Homo sapiens: one gene and its partners. The protein of the gene in region 1 interacts with the protein of each later gene in a biochemical or structural test. Each region holds a gene or a part of one and is shown on either strand. Other genes may lie near its edges.

Evidence for each region.
Region 2: the proteins of UBE2V2 (region 1) and RC3H1 form a complex in vitro, tested with the Homo sapiens proteins (one study listed by BioGRID).
Region 3: the proteins of UBE2V2 (region 1) and RFFL form a complex in vitro, tested with the Homo sapiens proteins (one study listed by BioGRID).

Annotation. Positions count from the first base shown.
Region 1 is NC_000008.11:48,004,218-48,011,448, reverse strand, and holds the start of UBE2V2 (ubiquitin-conjugating enzyme E2 variant 2), read right to left. Parts: upstream 3,019-7,231; 5' UTR 2,995-3,018; coding exon 2,979-2,994; intron 1-2,978. UniProt on the Homo sapiens protein: Has no ubiquitin ligase activity on its own. The UBE2V2/UBE2N heterodimer catalyzes the synthesis of non-canonical poly-ubiquitin chains that are linked through 'Lys-63'. This type of poly-ubiquitination does not lead to protein degradation by the proteasome.
Region 2 is NC_000001.11:174,019,358-174,026,276, forward strand, and holds the start of RC3H1 (roquin-1), read right to left. Parts: upstream 3,001-6,919; 5' UTR 2,739-3,000; intron 1-2,738. UniProt on the Homo sapiens protein: Post-transcriptional repressor of mRNAs containing a conserved stem loop motif, called constitutive decay element (CDE), which is often located in the 3'-UTR, as in HMGXB3, ICOS, IER3, NFKBID, NFKBIZ, PPP1R10, TNF, TNFRSF4 and in many more mRNAs.
Region 3 is NC_000017.11:35,053,708-35,060,733, forward strand, and holds part of RFFL (E3 ubiquitin-protein ligase rififylin), read right to left. Parts: intron 788-7,026; exon of another isoform or gene 681-787; intron 1-680.

The DNA of each region.
Region 1 (7,231 bases):
CCCAGAACTTTGGGAGGCCGGAGCAGATGGATTACCTGAGGTTAGCAGTTTGAGACCAGCCTGGCCAACATGGTGAAACCCCATCTCTACTAGAAAAAATATATATACAATAAATTAGCTGGGCGTGGTGGTGCATGCCTGTAAACCCAGCTACTCAGAATGCTGAGGCAGGAGAATTGCTTAAACCCAGGAGGAAGAGGCTGCAGTCAGCCGAGATCGCACCATTGCACTCCAGCCTGAGCAACAAGGCGAGACTCCGTTTCAAACAAACACGTGCATTACATCGATGTAGCTCATCTAATTTTAAATTTTAAGCTGTATCATGCTGCTTTCACAAATACACAGGTACTATTTACTTCCCATGTTACCAAAAAGCAAACAAAAGTATAGCTAATAGTAAAATTAAAACTAATTAATAGGCTGGGCACTGTGGCTCACACCTGTAATCCCAGCACTTTGGGAGGCCAAGGTGGGCGGATTGCCTGGGGTCAGGAGTTTGAGACCAGTCTGGACAACATGATGAAAACCTGTCCCTACTAAAAAAAAAAAAAAAAATACAAAAAAAATATATATATACAAAAAAATTTGCTGGGCGTGGTGGCATGCACCTGTAATCCCAGCTACTCAAGAGGCTGAGGCAGAGGAATTGCTTGAACCAGGGAGGTGGAAGTTGCAGTGAGCCGAGATCATGCCCTTGCACTCCAGCCTGGGCAAAGAAGCGAGAGACTCAGTCTCAAAAAAAAAAAAAAACAAACAAACCCAGGCGCAGTGGCTCACACCTGTAATCCCAGCAATTTGGGAGGCCGGATCACGAGGTCAAGAGATCAAGACCATCCTGGCCAATATGGTGAAACCCCGTCTCTACTAAATATACAAAAAATTAGCTGGGCATGGTGGCACGCGCCTGTTGTCCCAGCTACTCAGGAGACTGAGGCAGGAGAATCGCTTGAGCCCGGGAGGCGGAGGTTGCAGTGAGCCGAGATCGCGCCACTGCACTCCAGCCTGGGTGACAGAGCAAGACTGCGTCTCAAAAAAAAAAAAAAAAAAAACTAGTAGATGGGAACGGTGGCTCACCCCTGTAATCCAGCACTTTGGGAGGCTGAGGCGGGTGGATCACCTGAGGTGAGGAGGGTGCAGTGAGCCAAGATCATGCCACTGCACTCCAGCCTGGGCAATGCAGCGAGACTCCATCTCAAAAAAAAAAAAAAAATACAGACTCCCTATGTACAATATGCTAATAATTTATCAGTAATCTTTATAATTTATATTCAACTTCCAAAACAACTAAAAGTGATTAACAAAAAGTATTTGCCATTAATATCATCTAACCTTTGGTCTTTTCAAAATATTAACATACACTCATGTATAGTGTTATGAAAAAATTGTGTTTAATAATGCAACCCACAAAAGGAAAATGAAAAGTATTAAATTAAAATGCATTATTTTATTACTAAATTTTCAAAAATCTATAAGAGGTCCTAAGCACAACTGTTATAAAGATATGGCCCCGTTAACGAGCACAGATTAGATTTCAGCAAGCACAGTAAAGTCATAACACTAAAATTCCACTTTTAAAACAATCCTTGCCTTACTAGCTAGCTGACCCAAGTATGTATACTACCCCAACACTAGAACTGCTAAAGATCTTAAAACCTATGACACCTATATGTAATAAAGATGTAAAAGACACCACTTAATTAAAATGTATGCAGAATGTATCCTGAGGTATTACTCTAAAGCAACAATTACAACATATATTCAAAGCCTTCCATTTCAGTACATATAGATTTGAAAATTCATTTTATTATGCAATGATGGCATAAACTATTAAATCACACTGCTCTATACTCTTGTTTCAACGAAGACTAGGAAAAGGCAGATCAGGCCGAGCGCGGTGGCTCACACCTGTAATTCCAGCACTCTGGGAGGCCGAAGTGGGCGGATCACCTGAGGTCAGGAGTTCGAGACCAGTCTGGCCAACATGACAAAACCCCGTCTCTACTAAAAATACAAAAATTAGCCGGGCCTGGTGGCACGCGCCTGTAATCCCAGCTACTTGGGAGGCTGAGGCAGGAGAATCACTTGAACCTGGGAGGTGGAGGTTGCAGTGAGCCGAGATCACACCACTGCATTCCAACTGGGCAACAGGGTGAGCCTCTGACTCAAAAAAAAAAAAAAAAAGAAAAGAAAAGAAAAAGGCAGATCACACGGGTTAACATTTTTAAATGTAAACTAAAGCTTAACGTTTTTAACATTTCTGAAATGGTCTAATGTCTAAAACCTCAACGTTAATACTTGTGTGCTCACAGGAAACCAAACATTGTATTCAGTAGGAAAGAGGAGTTGAACAGCTTATCTAAGAAACCACTTGTTCTTCAATTAGCTTTCATCTTGCTCTGGTCTTTTATTTTGTTTGCACTGCAGTTTTCCTCATAAATAATAAAAAGATCACACGTATTCAGTCAGGTAAGAAAGATCCTCTCGCTCTTATTTTAAGGAGCAATCGTCCTCTACTCCCCAACCCATGTCAAGGAGAGTCCAAAGGAATGGGACCCCTACTCTGATCCAGGACACCTCTTGGCCTGACCCATCTTCGGTGCCGGTTGGCCTGACCCATCTTCGGTGCCGGAGGTTGACACCCGCCCACCTTGGGCCTCCTCGCCTCCCTCCCGTAGAGCCTTCAGCCTACAACTCGGACCCGCGCCCGCCGGAACCTACGGGGGCGCCCGCGCGGGAGCCACCCCGCCCCCAGCCCGCCGGCGCGCGGCCGACGCGCGAGCACGACCCGCCAACCCGACGGCCGCCGGGGCCTCGGCGCCGGTCCCACCCGGTCCCAGGCTACGCTCTGCGGAGAGCGCGGCATTCGAGACAGCGCACTCGGGCTTCTCCCGCACGGTCAGCGCTCGGGCGCCAGCAGCAGACGGAGGGGCAGAGCCGGGTCGGAGCGGAAAATCACGCAGCCCGGCCCGGGAACCGACCTGTGGAGACCGCCATCTTCTCCTGCAGCCCGACGCAGCCGCCCGCACGCACGCACGAACCGTCGCGCGTCACTTCCGGGAGCGCGCCGCCCTGCACGCGTCACAGCGGACTCCGCCCCCGGCGGGCGCGGGGCGACCCGAGGGACAGCGCGCACGTGGGCCGAGGGGTCGCGGGGCCTCGCTGCTGTTTCCGCAATTCCCTTGTGAATCCCGCTCTCAAAATGAAACGCTAAAGAATAAGTTCATGAGGGCCGGGCGCGGTGGCTCACGTCTGTAATCCCAGCACTTTGGGAGGCCGAGGCGATCGGATCACCCGAGGTCAGGAGTTCGAAACCAGCCTGGCCAACATGGCGAAACCCCGTCTCTACTAAAAATACAAAAATTAGCCGGACGTGGTGGCGCGCGCCTGTAATCCCAGCTATTTGGGAGGCTGAGGCACGAGAATCGTTTGAACCGGGGAGGCGGAGGGGCAATGAGCCGCGATTGCGCCACTGCACTCCAGCCTGGACAACAGAGCGAGACTCCGCCTCAAAAAAATAAATAAAAATAAGTGGGCATTGACAGATTTGCGTTGATAAACGATTCAAAAGAGTTGGACAATAAATTTGAACAGCTAGGGATGCTGAGGTGGGAGGGTCACGTGAGCCCAAGAGGTGAGGCTGCAGTGAGCAGAAATCGCTGCACTCCAGCCTGGGCAACAGAGGGAGACTCCATTTCAAAAAAAAAAAAGAAAGAAAGAAAAAGGAAAGTAATACAGGCTGGGCGCCGAAGCTCACTTCTGTAATCCTAACACTTTGGGAGGCTGAGGCAGGAGGATGGCTTGAACCCAAGACTTTGAGACCAGCTTGGACAACATAGTGATACCTAGTCTCTACATAAAACTGAAAAAAAAAAAAAAAAAAGATTTTTCACATCCCTTGTAGGTTGTATTCCTAGGTATTTTTATTCTCTTTGTAGCAATTGTGAATGGGAGTTCACTCATGATTTGGCTCTCTGTTTGTCTGTTATTAGTGTATAGGAATGCTTGTGATTTTTGCACATTGATTTTGTATCCTGAGACTTTGCTGAAGTTGCTTGTCAGCTTAAGAAGATTTGGGGCTGAGACTATGGGGTTTTCTAAATATACAATCATGTCATCTGCAAACAGAGACAATTTGACTTCCTCTTTTCCTAATTGAATACCCTTTATTTCTTTCTCTTGCCTGATTGCCCTGGCCAGAACTTCCAATACTATGTTGAATAGGAGTGGTGAGAGAGGGCATCTTTGTCTTGTGCCGGCTTTCAAAGGGAATGCTTTTGGCCGGGCATGGATCCCAGCACTTTGGGAGGCGGAGGCGGGCGGATCACGAGGTCAGAAGATCAAGACCATCTTGGCTAACACAGTGAAACCCTGTCTCTACTAAAAAAAAAAAAATACAAAAAATTAGCCAGGCATGGTGGCAGGCCCCTGTAGTCCCAGCTACTCGGGAGGCTGAGGCAGGAGAATGGCGTGAACCCGGGAGTTGGAGCTTGCAGTGAACCGAGATGGCGACACTGCACTCCACCCCAGCCTAGGGGACAGAGCGAGACTCCATCTCAAAATAAAAAAAAATAAAAAATAAAAAGAATCCTTCATTCCAGTTTTCGCCCATTCAGTATGATATTGGCTGTGGGTTTGTCGTAAATAGCTCTTATTATTTTGAGATACATTCCATCAATGCCTAGTTTATTGAGAGTTTTTAGCATGAAGGGCTGTTGAATTTTGTCGAAGCCTTTTCTGCATCTATTGAGATAATCATGTGGTTTTTGTCATTGGTTCTGTTTATGTGATGGATTACATTTATTGATTTGCATATGTTGAAGCAGCCTTGCATCCCAGGGATGAAGCCGACTTGATCTTGGTGGATAAGCTTTTTTGATGTGCTGCTGGATTCGGTTTGCCAGTATTTTATTGAGTATTTTCGCATCAATGTTCATCAGGGGTATTGAGCCCACGTAGCCAAGGCAATCGTAAGCAAAAGGAACAAAGCTGGAGGCATCACACTACCTACCTGACTTCAAACTATACTGCGAGGCTACAGTAAAAAAAATTGCCTAGTACTGGTACCAAAACAGATATATAGATCAATGGAACAGAACAGAGGCCTCAGAAATAACTCCACATATCTACAACCATCTGATCTTTGACAAACCTGACAAAAACAAGCAATGGGGAAAGGATTCCTTATTTAATAAATGGTGTTGGGAAAACTGGGTAGCCATATGCAGAAAGCTGGAACTGGATCCCTTCCTTACACCTTATACAAAAATTAACTCAAGATGGATTAAAGACTTAAACGTAAGACCTAAAACCATAAAAACCCTAGAAGAAAACCTAGGCAATACCATTCAGGATGTAGGCATGGGCAAAGACTTCATGACTAAAACACCAAAAGCAATGGCAACAAAAGCCAAAATTGACAAATGGAATCTGATTAAACTAAAGAGCTTCTGCACAGCAAAAGAAACTACCATGAGAGTGAACAGGCAACCTATAGAATGGGAGAAAATTTTTGCAATCTATCCATCTGACAAAGGGCCAATATATAGAATCTACAAAGAACTTAAACAGATTTACAAGAAAAAAATAAGTCCATCAAAAAGTGGGCAAAGGATATGAACAGACACTTCTCAAATGAAGACATTTATGCAGCCAACAAACATGAAAAAAAGCTCATCATCACTGGTCATTAGGGAAATGCAAATCAAAACCACAATGAGCTACCATCTCACACCAGGTAGAATGGTGATCATTAAAAAGTCAGGAAACAACAGATGCTGGAGAGGATGTGGAGAAATAGGAATGCTTTTACACTGTTGGTGGGAGTATAAATTAGTTCAACCATTGTGGAAGACAGTGTGGCGATTCCTCAAGGATCTAGAACTAGAAATACCATTTGACCCAGCAATCCCATTACTGGGTATATACCCAAAGCATTATAAATCATTCTACTATAAAGACACATGCACATGTATATTTATTGTGGCACTGTTCACAATAGCAAAGACTTGGAACCAACCCAAATGGCCATCAGTGATAGACTGCATAAAGAAAATGTGGCAAATATACACCATGGAATACTATGCAGCCATAAATTAGGATGAGTTCATGTCCTTTGCAGGAACATGGATGATGCTGGAAACCGTCATTCTCAGCAAACTATCACAAGAACAGAAAACCAAACACCTCATGTTCTCACTTATAAGTGGGAGTTGAACAGTGAGAACACATGGACACAGGGAGGGGAACATCACACACTGGGGCCTGTCAGGGGTTGGGGGCTAGGGGAGGGATAGCATTAGGAGAAATACGTAATGTAGATGACAGGTTGATGGGTGTAGCAAACCACCATGGCACGTGTATACCTCTGTAACAAACCTGCATGTTCTGCCCCTGTTCCCCAGAATTTAAATTAAAAAAAAAAAAAAAGGAGAAAAAGTAGTTAAGAGAAAAAAAAAAAAGCTGGCATTCTGGTTCGTGCCTGTAGCCTCAACTACTCAGGAGGATGAGATGGGAGGATCACTTGAGCCAGGAGGTTAAGGCTTCAGTGAGTTATGATGGCACCACTGTAATACAGCCTGGGCAACAGAATGAGACACTGTCTTAAAAAAAAAAATGCAGGGGGCCAGGTGCGGTGGCTCACGCCTGTAATCCCAACACTTCAGGAGGCCAAGGCAGGTGGATCACAAGGTCGGGAATTCAATACCAGCCTGGCCAAAATGGTGAAACCCTCCCTCTACTAAAAATAGAAAAATTAGCCAGGTATGGTGGCGGCCACCTGTAATCCCAGCTACTTGGGAGGCTGAGGCAGAGAATTGCTTGAACCCAAGAGGCGGAGGTTGCAGTGAGCTGAGATCACACCACTGCACTCCAGCCTGGATGACAAGAGCGAGACTCTGCCTCAAAAAAAAAACAAAAAAACAAAACAAAAAAAAAAAACAGAAGAGGAAATAAAGAAGAATCATAATATACTATCCTTATCTACTCTCAAGCCACTGTAACTTGACAAGCCAAAATGAGACTGTTTTTCTCACAAAGGGACCTGACACAATAACCTAACTGAAATTTCTTACCAGTGCAGAGAAAAACTCTAATATTATCATCAAATTATTAAACTTTCCCCAAGTTTGTCTGCTGAGTTCTAGTGACCTCAGCATTATATACTTAGCAACAGCCTCTAGCTGACCTATCCTAAATATCAATATTTCTTAAACACCACATTTATTATGTCCTT
Region 2 (6,919 bases), on another chromosome or scaffold:
ACACATGTGGTAGTGGCAAAGAATCTAATTTGTGTCACAAGATCTGAGTCTGAGTAAGCTCTTTTACCTATTAATTATGTGATCTTTTTGCTGGTTACATAGCTACTCTTAGCTTCACATTCTTCATATGAAAAAATGAGGACAACAGAACTAATACTGCAGCATAATGAGGAAGCTTAAATATTTTTATTCATTCAACAAATATGTTCTGAAAGGCGTTGTGTACAAATTACCCTTTTTTATTTCTTCAAATAAATCAAGCATATATTAACTTTTAATATTACCAAGAAAATATAAATCTAATTCTTAAGCTCTGGTTCCAAAACTTCTTAGAAGTAAATTTTTATTACCTGAGAAAATGTGAACTTAAGTAATAAGTATTGATACTGAAGAAGGGACAGTTGAGTTTGTGTCAAAACTTAAAACTGTTTTGACACAAAATAAATAAAAACAATTCCCTAAATTTTTTTCCTATTGAACAGAAATACGGACCCAGACTAAGCCCATAAATTGCTGGGTCAATAACCAATCTGAAATACAAAACCTTACCACTTAAAAATATTTATTTTCAGGAAAATGATATTAAATATGAGGTAAATCTGCCCTTGACATAACACGGTGAGATTGTTTTCATAACACAGCACATGAACCACTTAAAACTTACAACCTATAAATTACTACAATTGTTCTAATAGGTTTAGGGCCATACATAAATTTAAGTATCATTATAACACAGACTTTACTTGGAATCTGTGCTGACCTAACAAAATTAGCACAGAAAAAAAAAAAAAATCACAGATTTGAGCACCTGAAAAACGGTGTCCTTTCTGAAATATCTGCAAAAAAGTCACAACATCAGGAGCCATAGAAAGTTGTTATTTCTCCATCATTCAAAAAATCAAAACATCTCCAACATTATTTATGCTAAGCATAAAATGAAGGTCAGTATTGATATTCATTCACTATACTTCAAATCCTAAACAAGAAAATTCAACCTTTATGTTTATTCAATTGCTAATCTATTCAGTGTCAATTGTTGTGGAAGAACTAAGAACTAGACTAGTGCTGCTTATAATGTTTTTAATTAGAACAGACTTGGACCAATTCTACTTAGAAATTTACCCTTAGAAGAGGTGAAAGATATTAACTGGCATCTTTTCAGCACAGGTCAGTGCTGAAAAGAACACAACCTATAACCCTTAGGCCTTGCAGTTGAATGTTAACAAGTGAAAAGCAATCTCCTTGGATGTATCCAAGCGATTTTAATATAAATTTCTGCATACCTAGGTAGAAAGTACTTTAGAAATAAATCTACCTTTTCCCTCACTTGTAAGAAAATGTGGTAGAAGCCTTGAAAAATTAAGTTTAAGGCTGAGCGAGGTGGCTCACGCCTGTAATCCAAGCACTTTGGGAGGCGGAGGAGGGCAGATGACTTGAGGTCAGGAGTTCCAGACCAGCCTGGCCAACATGGTGAAACCCCGTCTCTACTAAAAATACAAAAATCAGCCGGGCATGGTGGCGGGCGCCTGTAATCCCAGCTACTCCGGATGGTGAGGCAGGAGAATCGCTTGAATCCGGGAGGTGGAGGCTGTAGTGAGCCGAGATTGTGCCACTGCAATCCAGCCTGGGTGACAGAGCAAGACTCCGTCGCAAAACAAAACAAAAACGAAATCAAATTTCAAACTCAGAGAAAAGACTGGTCTTGAACAATTTCAGGAAAAATTACTGAAACACGAGACAAGGCACAAGAAGCTCTATGGCCGGAGATGAACCACCTGTCTCCTTTCGAAGTGCTTCCTGAGGTCCACTTTATGCTAGTTAATGTTGCTTCTTATACTGCATGTTAGTAATTCAAAACGCCTAGCTGGAATAAAAGTCCTCTTTAAACATTACAGTTTGTCTCCGCGTTGCCAGTGTTTGTTTCCAGTTTCATAGGCTATTCTGGTATGTCAAGAGTTGTGTTATTACTGTTCCAAAAGAGCCCTTGTTTCAATCCACTCTCACCTGGGATGCGGGCATAACTGATGTTTATAGAACTGATACTTAGAGATGTTTAGAGAGGCGCATCCCTTACCACTCCATCCTTTACCGATAACCACATTTTATATGTTTTTGTTGCATTTAAGTTTTTTGTTTTTTTTTTTTAAAGACACCTGCACACACACAATTTTCCCATCGCCAGCAGGGAGAAGACTACCAGGCTAGATCTCCAGGGACTTCAGGGAAACAGACACCGTGAAATCCACTTGGCCAAAGAAGGGGAGCGCTTCAGGGGCTGGGGGAGGAAGCAGCCCTGAGGTGCTGGGAGGCCGAGGCGGCGCCTGTTTACAGACGCCTTCGCCCTCCCCCACCCCCACAGACTAGGGGTCCAAAAAGCAGTTCCCGTGCGCATTCCCCGCCTGGCCCAGGCCCTGGGAGTACCACAGGAGCCAGGTAGCCCTTTCGCCCCCTCCCTCTCGTCCGAGCCTCCCTTCGTCCTCCTCTCGGCCTACCTACCCCGACAGGCCCTACAGGCGGCATGCAGAGGCCTGAGGCCTAAAGGACGCCGGCCACTGACAAGCCCCAGAACAGCCGGCGGGGGCCCTGAGGAGCCTGGGGCCGGCCGGGCTGCCGCTGCCGCGGAGGAGCAGAGGGCGGGCGAGGACAAACCCTTCCCGACCACAGCTGCCTATTGTTCCCGACTGAGGCCCCGGCCGCGGCAGCCCCGCTCCCCAAGTCGCCGCCCGCCGCTCGCTCACCGCGCTGGTCCGAGCAGCAGCTCCTCTCAGCTCCGAGTCCCCGCGGCCGTCGCCACCGCCGCGGCAGCCGCCGCCGCCGCCGAGGCCACCGTTGACTCTGATTCTGTCCCAGGCCGCCGGGCCACGGCTGCCGCCGCCACCGCCAGCACCGCCTCCGGCCTCCCACCTGCTGCTGCTGAGGCTGCTCCTGCAGCAGGGGCCATCTTGTTGCTCGGCCTCCTCTTCCTCCTCCTCGTCCTCCGCCGCCCAGTCGCTCGTTGTCCTCGTCCCCTTCCTCTTCCTCAGGCTCCGGCCCGCCCCGGAGACTGGGGCGGAGACGAGGGCGAGGATCCTCCCTCAGGAGGCGGGGCGGGCGGAGGGGAGGGGCGGGCGCGGGAGCAAAGCTCTGAGTCACCGGCCACCAACGCCCGGAGGGAGACCGGCGACGCTCTCCGCCGCGACCGAAAGTCTCACACGCCCTGAGCAGATGAACCGGTCCCTCGGTCCGGTCTGCCCTCCCGCACCGGCGCCTTTGGGCTCAGCGGGCCAGTGGCCAGATGGCGAGAGTAAATTGGGGGAATTTCTTTCGTTTCCATCGAACCCCACACTACGTCTACTCTTTCGGCTTTCTCAGCCGTTGTCCCCCAACTCTTGTTTCTTTTTCACGTCTTGTCCCCCACCCCATTTTTCTTCTTCCATATTATCCAGGTTCTGGATCTCATCAGCTTTGTCCTCGTCACCCCTCTGGGAGTTCAGCCTCCTAAGGCTGTGAAACAGCCCAAAAGGCCCGGACACGCTACTCCAAAACGTCTCTCCTGGGCTGTGTGAACAATAAGAGCTATTTGGGGACGACAGGAAAAGATATGGCCCATAGAAGGGCTCCTGAAATCTAACCTTGCGACTCTTTAAAAGTTTCTTGTCCCTTGTGGAAAAGGTGCCGTTTTGGTTTTGGGGAATGGGAGGTCCCTTCAGACAATTCATTTTAGCCAAACCCTCGCTTTTGAGAAGGGGAAGAAATGGGATTATTGTAACACCATACAGTACTAATTTCAAAATAAATCATCTAGAATAGAGGAGAGAGAGAGTCCCCAAATAAACAACCATTTAATACCTCTACTCGGCGCTATCACCTTTTTTGCTTCAGGATTTGACCAAGAGAGCAGAGATTATGTTTTTCTGTCCTTTCTTCACTGTTTACATCACAGTACCCCAAGAGAAGCACTTCTGCCTTTAACTTGATACATTGGAATCGCTATCACAGATAGTGTTTTTGTATTATTTTTAAGAAATATCACACACCTTCCTAAACTCTTGGCAGAGAAGAATTCTTTTTAGTTGTTAGCACCCTCCTGCTACTGAGATCTCAGCTTCTGTTTAGAAGACCTATTGTTGTCTTTCCACTGATTGGAATTTGCTGCCTCTGAACTGGGTTTAATCTGTAATCGTCTTTTCAGCCTACTAAATAGTAACCCCAGTCCTACAGAGAGTGAATTTCTAGCTACCACAGGGGGATTTAGGTTAGCATGTGCCAATCTAAAGGGATCTCTTAAAGCCTTTCCCTTCTCAGACCAGGCCTCTGTACCCTGCTAGGAAAAACAGATTAATCTGCTCCTCCTGCTTTTCCTCCTCCTCCCTTCTTCTCACTCCTAGGGAACCTTCCACAACAGAAGGTTTTAGCGACTGTTGCTAGGCAAACATGCCAACTTCCTTGTTTAGGTGAAGCGAGTAACTCAACTTCCATTGCAAGTAACCTAGATAATGTAATTTCTTTGAACTATTAATAGTTATACCACAGTTGGTAAGGCTCCTTAAAGGTTCCCTTAAGCAGTATGATTTTTACGTTGTTTATTTTTATCTCGTCAATATTTCAATTAAAAATACGTTAAAGGACAGATAGATGCAGTGGCTCACGCCTGTAATCCCAACATTTTAGGAGGCTGAGGGGGGCGGATCACCTGAGGTCCGGAGCCTGACCAACGTGGAGAAACCCCATCTCTACTAAAAATACAAAAATTAGCCAGGTGTGGTGGCGTGCACCTATAGTCCTAGCTACTCGGGAGGCTGAGGCAGGAGAATCACTTGAACCTGGGAGGTGGAGGTTGTAGTGAGCCGAGATCACGCCATTGCACTCCAGTCTGGGCAAAAAGAGCTAAACTCTGTCTCAAAAAAAAAAAAAAAAAAAAAAAAAAAGTTAAAAATGGCGGCGCTTCCCCAAACCCAAATTCATTTTAGTGATATAAAGATGCATTTGACAGAAAAAGAAGAGCAGCTTTGAAGAAAACACTTATGCTTACAATAAAAAATAAAAAACTAATCTGTGAGAAGTCATATGTTTTCAACTCCCCAGTCAGACTAGAAGTGTAAGATACAGGGGATAAGGCCGGGAGCGGTGGCTCACGCTTGTAATCCCAGCACTTTGGGAGGCCGAGGCAGGCAGATCACGAGGTCAGGAGATGCAGACTATTCTGGCCAACATGGTGAAACCCCGTCTCTACCAAAAATACAAAAAGCCCGGCGTGGTGGCGCGCGCCTATAGTCCCAGCTACTCAGGAGACAGAGGCAGGAGAATCACTTGAACCTGAGAGGCAGAGGCTGCAGTGAGCCAAGATTGTACCACTGCACTCCAGCCTGGATGACAGCAAGACTCGGTCTTGGCAGAGCATTGTGGCCCACGCCTGTAATCCCAGCACTTTGGGAGGCTGAGGAGGGTGGCTCTCCTAAGGTCAGGAGTTCAAGACCAGCTTGGCCAACATGGTGAAACCCCGTCTCTACTAAAAATACAAAAAAATTAGCTGGGCGTGGTGGCAGGCACCTGTAATCCCATCTACTAGGGAGGCTGAGGCAGGAGAATCCTTTGAACCTGGGAGGCGGAGGTTGCAGTGAGCCGAGATCGTGCCATTGCACTCCAGCCTGGGCAACAAGAATGAAACTCCGTCTCAAAAAAAACACCAAAAATTAGCTGGGCATGGTGGTGCACGCTTGTAATCCCAGCTACTTGGGAGGCTGAGACAGGAGAATCGCTTGAACCTGGTAGGTGGAGGTTACAGTGAGCCGAGATCACGCCACTGCACTCCAGCCTGGCGACAGAGCAAGACTCCATCTCAAAAAAGAAAAAAAGAAAAAAAAAAGATACAGAGGATAATTTATCTCTTGAAATTGAGTCTATTTAAAATAAAGATAATATGAATATTCAGCAAGGGGGAAAAAAGATATTCTGGGTTTTATTCCTAAATTAACAATTATTTGAAAATTTAGCTAGGGAAATAAGCTTTTTTTAAAAATTTTATTTAAAATGTTTTTACTCTTGTTAGAGTATTGAGATTTGTTGTGAATTAATACAAATAAGATTAAATGAGGCTGAGCATGGCAGCTCATGCCTGTAATCCTAGCATTTTAGGAGGCTGAGGCAGGAGGATTGCTTGAGGCCAAGAGTTCAAGACCACCTGGCCAACATAGAAGACCTTGTCTCCATTTAATTAAAAAAAAATTTTTATAAAAGATTAATGACGCCAGGCAAGGTGGCTCACATCTGTAATCCCAGAACTTTGGGAGGCCGAGGCAGGCGGATCACCTGAGGCCAGGAGTTCGAGCCCAGCCTGGCCAACATGGCAAAGCCCCATCTCTACTAAAAATACAAAAATTGGCTGGATATGGTGGTACATGCCTGTAATCTCAGCTACTCAGGAGGCTGAGGCAGGAGAATTGCTTGAACCCGGGAGACGGAGGTTGCAGTGAGCCGAGATCACGCCACTGCACTCCAGCCTGGGTGACAGAGCAAGACTCTGTCTCAAAAAAAAAAAGATTAATGAGACACTATGTTGAAATTTAAATTATATAGATTTAAACTTCAGAACTCTTAAAATTTGTTTTAATCCACTGAAACTCATATTAATACACTGAAATAGTGTTTGAGAAGTGTCTTGAGCTTAGATTATATGTTAATTAAGAGTATATTACTTAAGATAAACAGCTTATATGTTTCATAGCCATTTGTGCTCAGAAATCACTATTTTGCTCACACCTGTAATCTCAGCACTTTGGGAGGCTGAGGTGGGCGGATCGCTTTGAGCTCAGTTGTTCCAGACCAGCCTGAGCAACACGGCAAAACCCCATCTCTACAAAAAGTACAAAAATTACCTGGGTATTGGTGGCTCATGCCTGTAGTCCCAGCTACTCAGCTACTCAGAAGGTTGAGGTGGAAA
Region 3 (7,026 bases), on another chromosome or scaffold:
TTATGGGAAACAATAATCTTTTTTGTAACTATATTCTCCCCCACAAACCATTCTATCTTATAAATCCATGCTCACCAAGCAAGCTTGATATTATTAAATTTGATTGCCAGATCTCTTGATATTGAAAAGCAATTATCCTAACAAATTCCAGAATCCCGTTAACGGAAAAGGAATCCTTCATTCTAAAATAATAAATTGGCATTCCATTCTGAGCTCAATCACTCAAGTCTGAATACAATCCTGTCTTCAAGACTAATTATTTCCAGGTTCTCCACAAAATACATTTTGTGACCCAAGACTAGACTGACGACACAGTGACCAAAATCCTGAGGGGTCATCCTGAGAAGCTAGATTGGCACCACCCTGGCCAGCCCTACCTAATGCCACCCTCGCTCTACAAGCTAACTTGTATAATACTTTCCCATACTTCTCCACCTTCCACCCCTGTCATACCCTTCAATCAAGCACTATAGTGAAGCACTTTACCTTCCTCTCTAACCGTGTAGAGGTCAAATACACCATCTTATCCATTTTTGCATTTTCCTCCATATCCCAATATAACTTGCATCAAAAGAACCACAATAAATATTTACTGTAAAACACAATTTTGCTTAACAACACAAGCCATTGCATTCCACCATTCCCACAAGCTGAGGCCTCTTTCTGATTTATTTTTCCCACATCAGATGGGTAATGCACTGACTTTGTAGTAACAAGGCTTGATGGAGGCACATCTCATACATGTGCATGAAAATCCAATCATTACACTTATGAACAACAAAATAATCCCCTTTCTAATTTACTGAACTCTTACTCTATCTTTTATCTTCCCCTCCCTCCCCCACCTCTCCATTCCTAAACTGCCAGATTACTATAGAAAAATCAGAAGACTTTATTTAACTGGGTTGCTAACAAATTCATACAGCTGGGGTAAGCCATCACTGGGCTCTAAAAACCTTTCATTCCTCTCTAGCTGATGTCCTGATAGGGCTTTCCAAAGAGCAGTGTCATGCAAGGTTTAGGAGCATGGGGCCTGGGTCAGACAGAACTCATAGTCTTCTTTCTGTGTGACCTGTTAAGGTGATTAATTCCCTAAGCGTCATTTTTCTCATCTGTAAAATGAAGTACCTAAAAGAGGTCATTCACACAAATCCTTAACACTAACACAGTGACAGGCTTAGAGTAGGTGCTTAGTAAACACCGATCCAACAGCTTTTTTTTTTTTTTTGAGATTGAGTCTTGCTTTGTTGCCCAGGCTGGAGTGCAGTGGCGCGATTTTGGCTCACTGCAAGCTCCACCTCCCGGGTTCACGCCATTCTCCTGCCTCAGCCTCCTGAGTAGCTGGGACTACGGGTGCCCACCAGCACGCCTGGCCAATTTTTTTGTATTTTTAGTAGACACGGGGTTTCACCGTGTTAGCCAAGATGGTCTCGATCTCCTGACCTCGTGATCCACTTGCCTCGGCCTCCCAAAGTGCTGGGATTACAGGCGTGAGCCACAGCGCCCGGCCAATGGTCACCAATGATCTTCTGATGGATAAATGTGTGATTCTTTCCTATGTCCTCAACCTTCATGACTCCCTGAAGCCCCATGCACCCAAAACCTACCCAAATTCTTCATTATGAAGCTGTCTTCAGAGGGTTACCAAGAACTATGGACAGAAATATAACTTTAATTAAGCATTAGGCCAGGTGCGATGGCTCACCTGTAATCCCAGCACTTTGGGAGGCCAAGGTGGGCGGATCACCTGAGGTCAGGAGTTTGAGACCAGCCTGGCCAAAACGGTGAAAACCCATCTCTACTAAAAATACAAAATTAGCCAGGTGTGGTGGCACACACCTGTAGTCTAGCTACTCAGGAGGCTGAGGCAGGAGAATCACTTGAACCCAGGAGGCAGAGGTTGCAGTGAGCCGAGATCATGCCATTGCACTCCAGCCTGGGCCACAAGAGCAAAACTCCATCTCAAAAAAAAACAAACAAACAAACAAACAAAAAAAAAACATTAATCAGGCTGGATTTTGACACATTTCCTTGTAACTGAAAGTCACACAGCGCTAGATACTGACCATTTGCATCCCTATTGTTTCTAAAGATAGTATCTCTGACATTAGAAGCATAAGGCTTTTTTTTTAAGAATTGCTTGAGATATTTTTCAGATCCCAAATTCTGGTAAAACAGCTGATGCCAACCAGTTTGAAGACCCTCAGAGAGAAATAAAATCAGCATAATACAGTTTTTTCATCTCCGGGTCCCATTACTTCACCTTTCTCTCTCTGACCACCCAACAATCTCCACATTCCAGCCCACTCCAAAATCCTTAAAAACCCTAGCTCCAAACTCCTCAGGAGGACGGATTTGCAGTTCCCTCTCATCTCCTCATTCTGCAGCCCAACAAATAAACCCCGCCCCCAGGTCTTGGGTATTGACTTGCCACACATCAGACAGCACACTTACTCTGGATACACTTGAATTCCCCTTACAGACTCCTTCTCCCACACTGGCTCCCACTGCAAGCGTGGTAGCCTGACTTACCTTTGACATCAATGACCACTCTTGCTCCCTTATTTTCCTTCCCTGGTTCCTTCTTTTGCCCCCTACATAGGCCCTAGGGTTCTGTACTCCATACTCTTCCTTCTTCCTTTCCTTCTCTAGTGAATTTTACTTCTACTTTTTTTTTTTTTTTTTTTTGAGACAAAGTTTTGCTCTGTTGCCCAGGCTGGAATGCAGTGGCATGATCTCGGCTCACCACAACCTCCGCCTCCTGGGTTCAAATGATTCTCCTGCCTCAGCCTTCTGAGTAGCTGGGATTACAGGCATGCACCACCACGCCCGGCTAATTTTGTATTTTTAGTAGAGACGGGATTTCTCCATGTTGGTCAGGCTGGTCTCAAACTCCTGACCTCAGGTGATCTGCCCACTTCAGCCTCCCAAAGTGCTGGGATTACAGGCGTGAGCCACCATGCCCAGCCTGGTTCTACTTTTTAAATGCATCCTGCAACTATCCCGTTCTATGTCCACTGCCATATCCTGCCCTATCTGCGATGATCCTTCTCAAGAAGGGAGACAAACACTTCCTTACTGGTCCCTTCTTTGTGACTCTCTATTCTCTACAGAGTAGCCAGGGTAACCTTTTATTTAGAAAAAGAATCTTTGCTTGTCACTTTCTGTTTTAAGCCTTCAATGGTGTCCCACCACCCTTTTTTTTTTTCTTTTTCTTTTTTTTTGAGACAGAGTTTTCACTTTTGTTACCCAGGCTGGAGTACAGTGGTGCAACCTCGGCTCACTGCAACATCCACCTCCCGGGTTCCAACAATTCTCCTGCCTCAGCCTCCCGAGTAGCACGGATTACAGGCATAAGCCACCATGCCTGGCTAAAATTTTTTATATTTTTAGTAGAGATGGGGTTTCACCACGTTGACCAGGCTGGTCTCAAACTCCTGACCTCAGGTGATCCACCTGCCTCAGCCTCCCAAAGTGCTAGGATTACAGGTGTGAGCCACCATGCCCAGCCCCACCACACTTTTGAGTGAAGGCTAGACTCACTATCTAGCCCACAAAGTCCCCATGTGATGTGGGCTCTGCTTGCCTTTTCCACTTTACCTCATGCAGCTCTCCCACTTCACTCACCTTGCTCTGTCCTTCGGTCACCTTCCTTCAATTCCTCAAAAATTATAAATTATTTATTGCCCCAGGGCCTACAAACTTGGGTTCCTTTTCTGGCTGAAACATTCTCCCTAGCTCTTTTCACAAGACTGGCTCCTTCTCAGACTGCAGTTCACCTTCCCTATAACATAGCTGTCTGGCACACAGTAGGAGCTTACCAGGTATTTGTGAAAGGAACAGATTTCACATTCTCCAGTCAGGTAACTCCCAAAAGTGAATATCTGGAATCAATCTCACCCTTCAGATCAGTGCTTCATTTCTAAATGCCTGCTAAATTTCCATACCTCAAACTTAGCATACTAGATATAAAACCAACTCTTCCATTTTCCCAAACCAGTTTCTCCAGTTTTCTGAAATTACATGAGCAATATGATCCAGTTTCCACTTCAGAACAATAAATTTCCCATTCATTTGCTCTACCTGTCCAAAATTCCAATCACCTTTAAAGCTAAATTCAAATATCACTTCATTCAATCATGCATTCAATCAACCACTTATTCATTCAACAAGTACTTACTGAGTGCCTTTTATGAGGCAGACACTATGTTAGATACTCGAAAGCAAAGCAGATGTATTTTTGTCTATTATACATCAAACAATCATATAAATATTGAATTATGAACTAAAAAAAAAGTAATGAAGGAAAAATGCCAGAAAACATGAGAAAAAAATGAGAGGCATCAAGAAACACTGTTCTGATGATGGGCTGATTTAATGAAATATAATTTACACTAGGCAGACTGGAAAGAAGAGCATGCTAGATAGGATTCAATCAAGTCCTAGAAGCAGGAGAGATGAGATCTATCTCAATGTACATATCATCTTGCCTTACATATTATATCTATCTATCCCCCCCCACCATACTCATTTTACTGATAGTTACCTGAAAGAAAGGACATAGAGTGTCTCTTATGTGCCAACACAACACCCCCAGGAGACACTGAGTCACTGGTCTGGTACCTAGGAGCTTATGCTTGTAAAAAGCTCCCAGATGACTCTATATGCAGCCAAATTTGTAAATCATATGCCCAAACTACCCATTTAATAAACATATATTGATTATTCTTTCATGAAAAATCTCTAAGGTCAGTGTGGTAAATTGTATCTAAAATTGGTGGTAGGCCAGGTGCGGTGGCTCACGCCTGTAATCCCAGCACTTTGGGAGGCCAAGGCGGGCAGATCATAAGGTCAGGAGTTCAAGACCAGCCTGACCAACATGGTGAAACCCCGTATCTACTAAAAATACAAAAATTAGCCAGGCGTGGTGGCAAGCAACTGTAATCCCAGCTACTCAGGAGGCTGAGGCAAGAGAATCACTTGAACCCGGGAGGCAAAGGTTGCAGTGAGCCGAGATTGCGCCACTGCACTCCAGCCTGGGTGACAGAGCGAGACTCTGTTTCAAAAAATAAAGTTGGTAGTAATAATCCCAATCACATTGCATGCCCTTTTGCAATGTGATTTTTACCCTCTATCCTTTAGAGGTGAAGTCAATGTCCCCTCCTCTTGTATCTGGGCTATAATTGTGACTTACTCTGACAAAAAGAATGGGGCAAAAGTGATGATGTATGACTGCCAGGCCTAGGTCTTATGAGATCCTGCAGCTTCCATTATGGCCCAGCCACCATGTAAAAGAAGCTCGAGCTAGAATTTTTTTTTTTTTTTTTTTTTGAGACGGTCTCGCTCTGTCACCCAGGTTGGAGTGCAATGGCACAATCTTGGCTCACTGCAACCTCCGCCTCCCATGTTCAAGCAATTCTCCTGCCTCGGCCTCCCAAGTAGGTGGGATTACAGGTGCCCACCACCATACCCAGCTAATTTTTGTATTTTTAGTAGAGACGGGGTTTCACCATGTTGGTCAGGCTGGTCTGGAACTCCCGACCTCAGGTGATCCACTCACCTCGGCCTCCCAAAGTGCTGAGATTACAGGCATGAGCCACTGCGCTCGGCCACTCGATATAGGTTTATAAGTGATGAGAGACCAAGAAAGAGAACTCACAGAGAACCAAGATATCCCAGCCAACAGCTAGCTCCAAAGGTACAGACATGTGCAGCCTTCTTGGATCCTCCAGCTCAATCAGCATCATATGGGACAAAAAAAAATATGTCCTCCTTTCCTGAATTACTAACCCACAAAATCATAGGCAATAAAATGGTTGTCATGTTATGCCACCAAAAGTCTTCGGGTAATTTGTCACACAATAGACAACTGAAACAGTCAGAAATTCAACACTCTCTTGGGCAGTCATTCAAACATTTCCCCACTTTGATGATCAAAAAATTCTTTCTCGTATTCATCAAAATTGCTCCTCCTTCAATTTAAGACCATTTCCTCTTAAATCTTTGAAGTTCATGAAGAATAATTAATAAAAATCCCCCTGGCAAAACTATTCTTGTATTTGAAGATGATAATGAAGTTATCTCTTAGCTTTTCTTTCTCTAGGCTAAAATCTTTCCCCCCTTTTTAAAACTTATAATGATAAGACCTGTTTTTCAACCTTTTAATCATTTTAATTATCCTCTCAAGTATGAGAGACCCAAAATTGAACACCATATGCCAATATCTAACAGAGATTATTTCCTAGCTCTAATGGTTCAGCTTTTTATAATGGAATTTCTCATAGTCCCAAATATGGCATTTTAGCACTCCAAAAGTTGTGAAGTGATCTAAAAAGTTAATTACTTACTATAACTGTAAAAGGTTTTCTGCCCTTAACACTCAGCTTACTCCATTTTGGGATGACCGCTTTCACTCACCAGCCTGGTTTGATACTCCACCAGGGCAGCAGGTTTTCACAACTTCCAGATATTTGAAGTATAAAAGAAAAACCTGAGAGGTTGGAGTACGCACACCATTAATTTCAATCAAGGTCTCTAACCACAACCAGGGCCTTCCCATAGGTCAGGCAGGTTCAGAGTACCTCCTCCTCCTACCTTGATGATAAAGTGGCCTTGTAAAAGGCAAGACCGTTAGCACTTGCCTATCGAGCAAAGGCACCATTTCTGTGGAACCTGATAGAGTATATTTAACTACTATATTAAGAGACAAACCAGCTGCTTAATGCAGTGTAAGAACCATGTTTTCTCTCTGAGTCTTACCTAAATGTATATATGCTTTGGTATCAGACTAGCTTTATAATCACTGGTAAAATAGGGATAATAAATAAAGCCTACCCAACGCAAATAAAACCATATGAGGGAAATAATTTTGTAAAACACCATAAAAATGTCGTGATATTGCGGGACTAGATCTCAGCAAACCCTTTAAATCTTCAAATTAACTTTGAATGATTACTTGATGGTGGCAGGTAACACATACAAAATAAGCAGCCATGGGCTCATGTTCATCAAATAGGAATGAAAAAC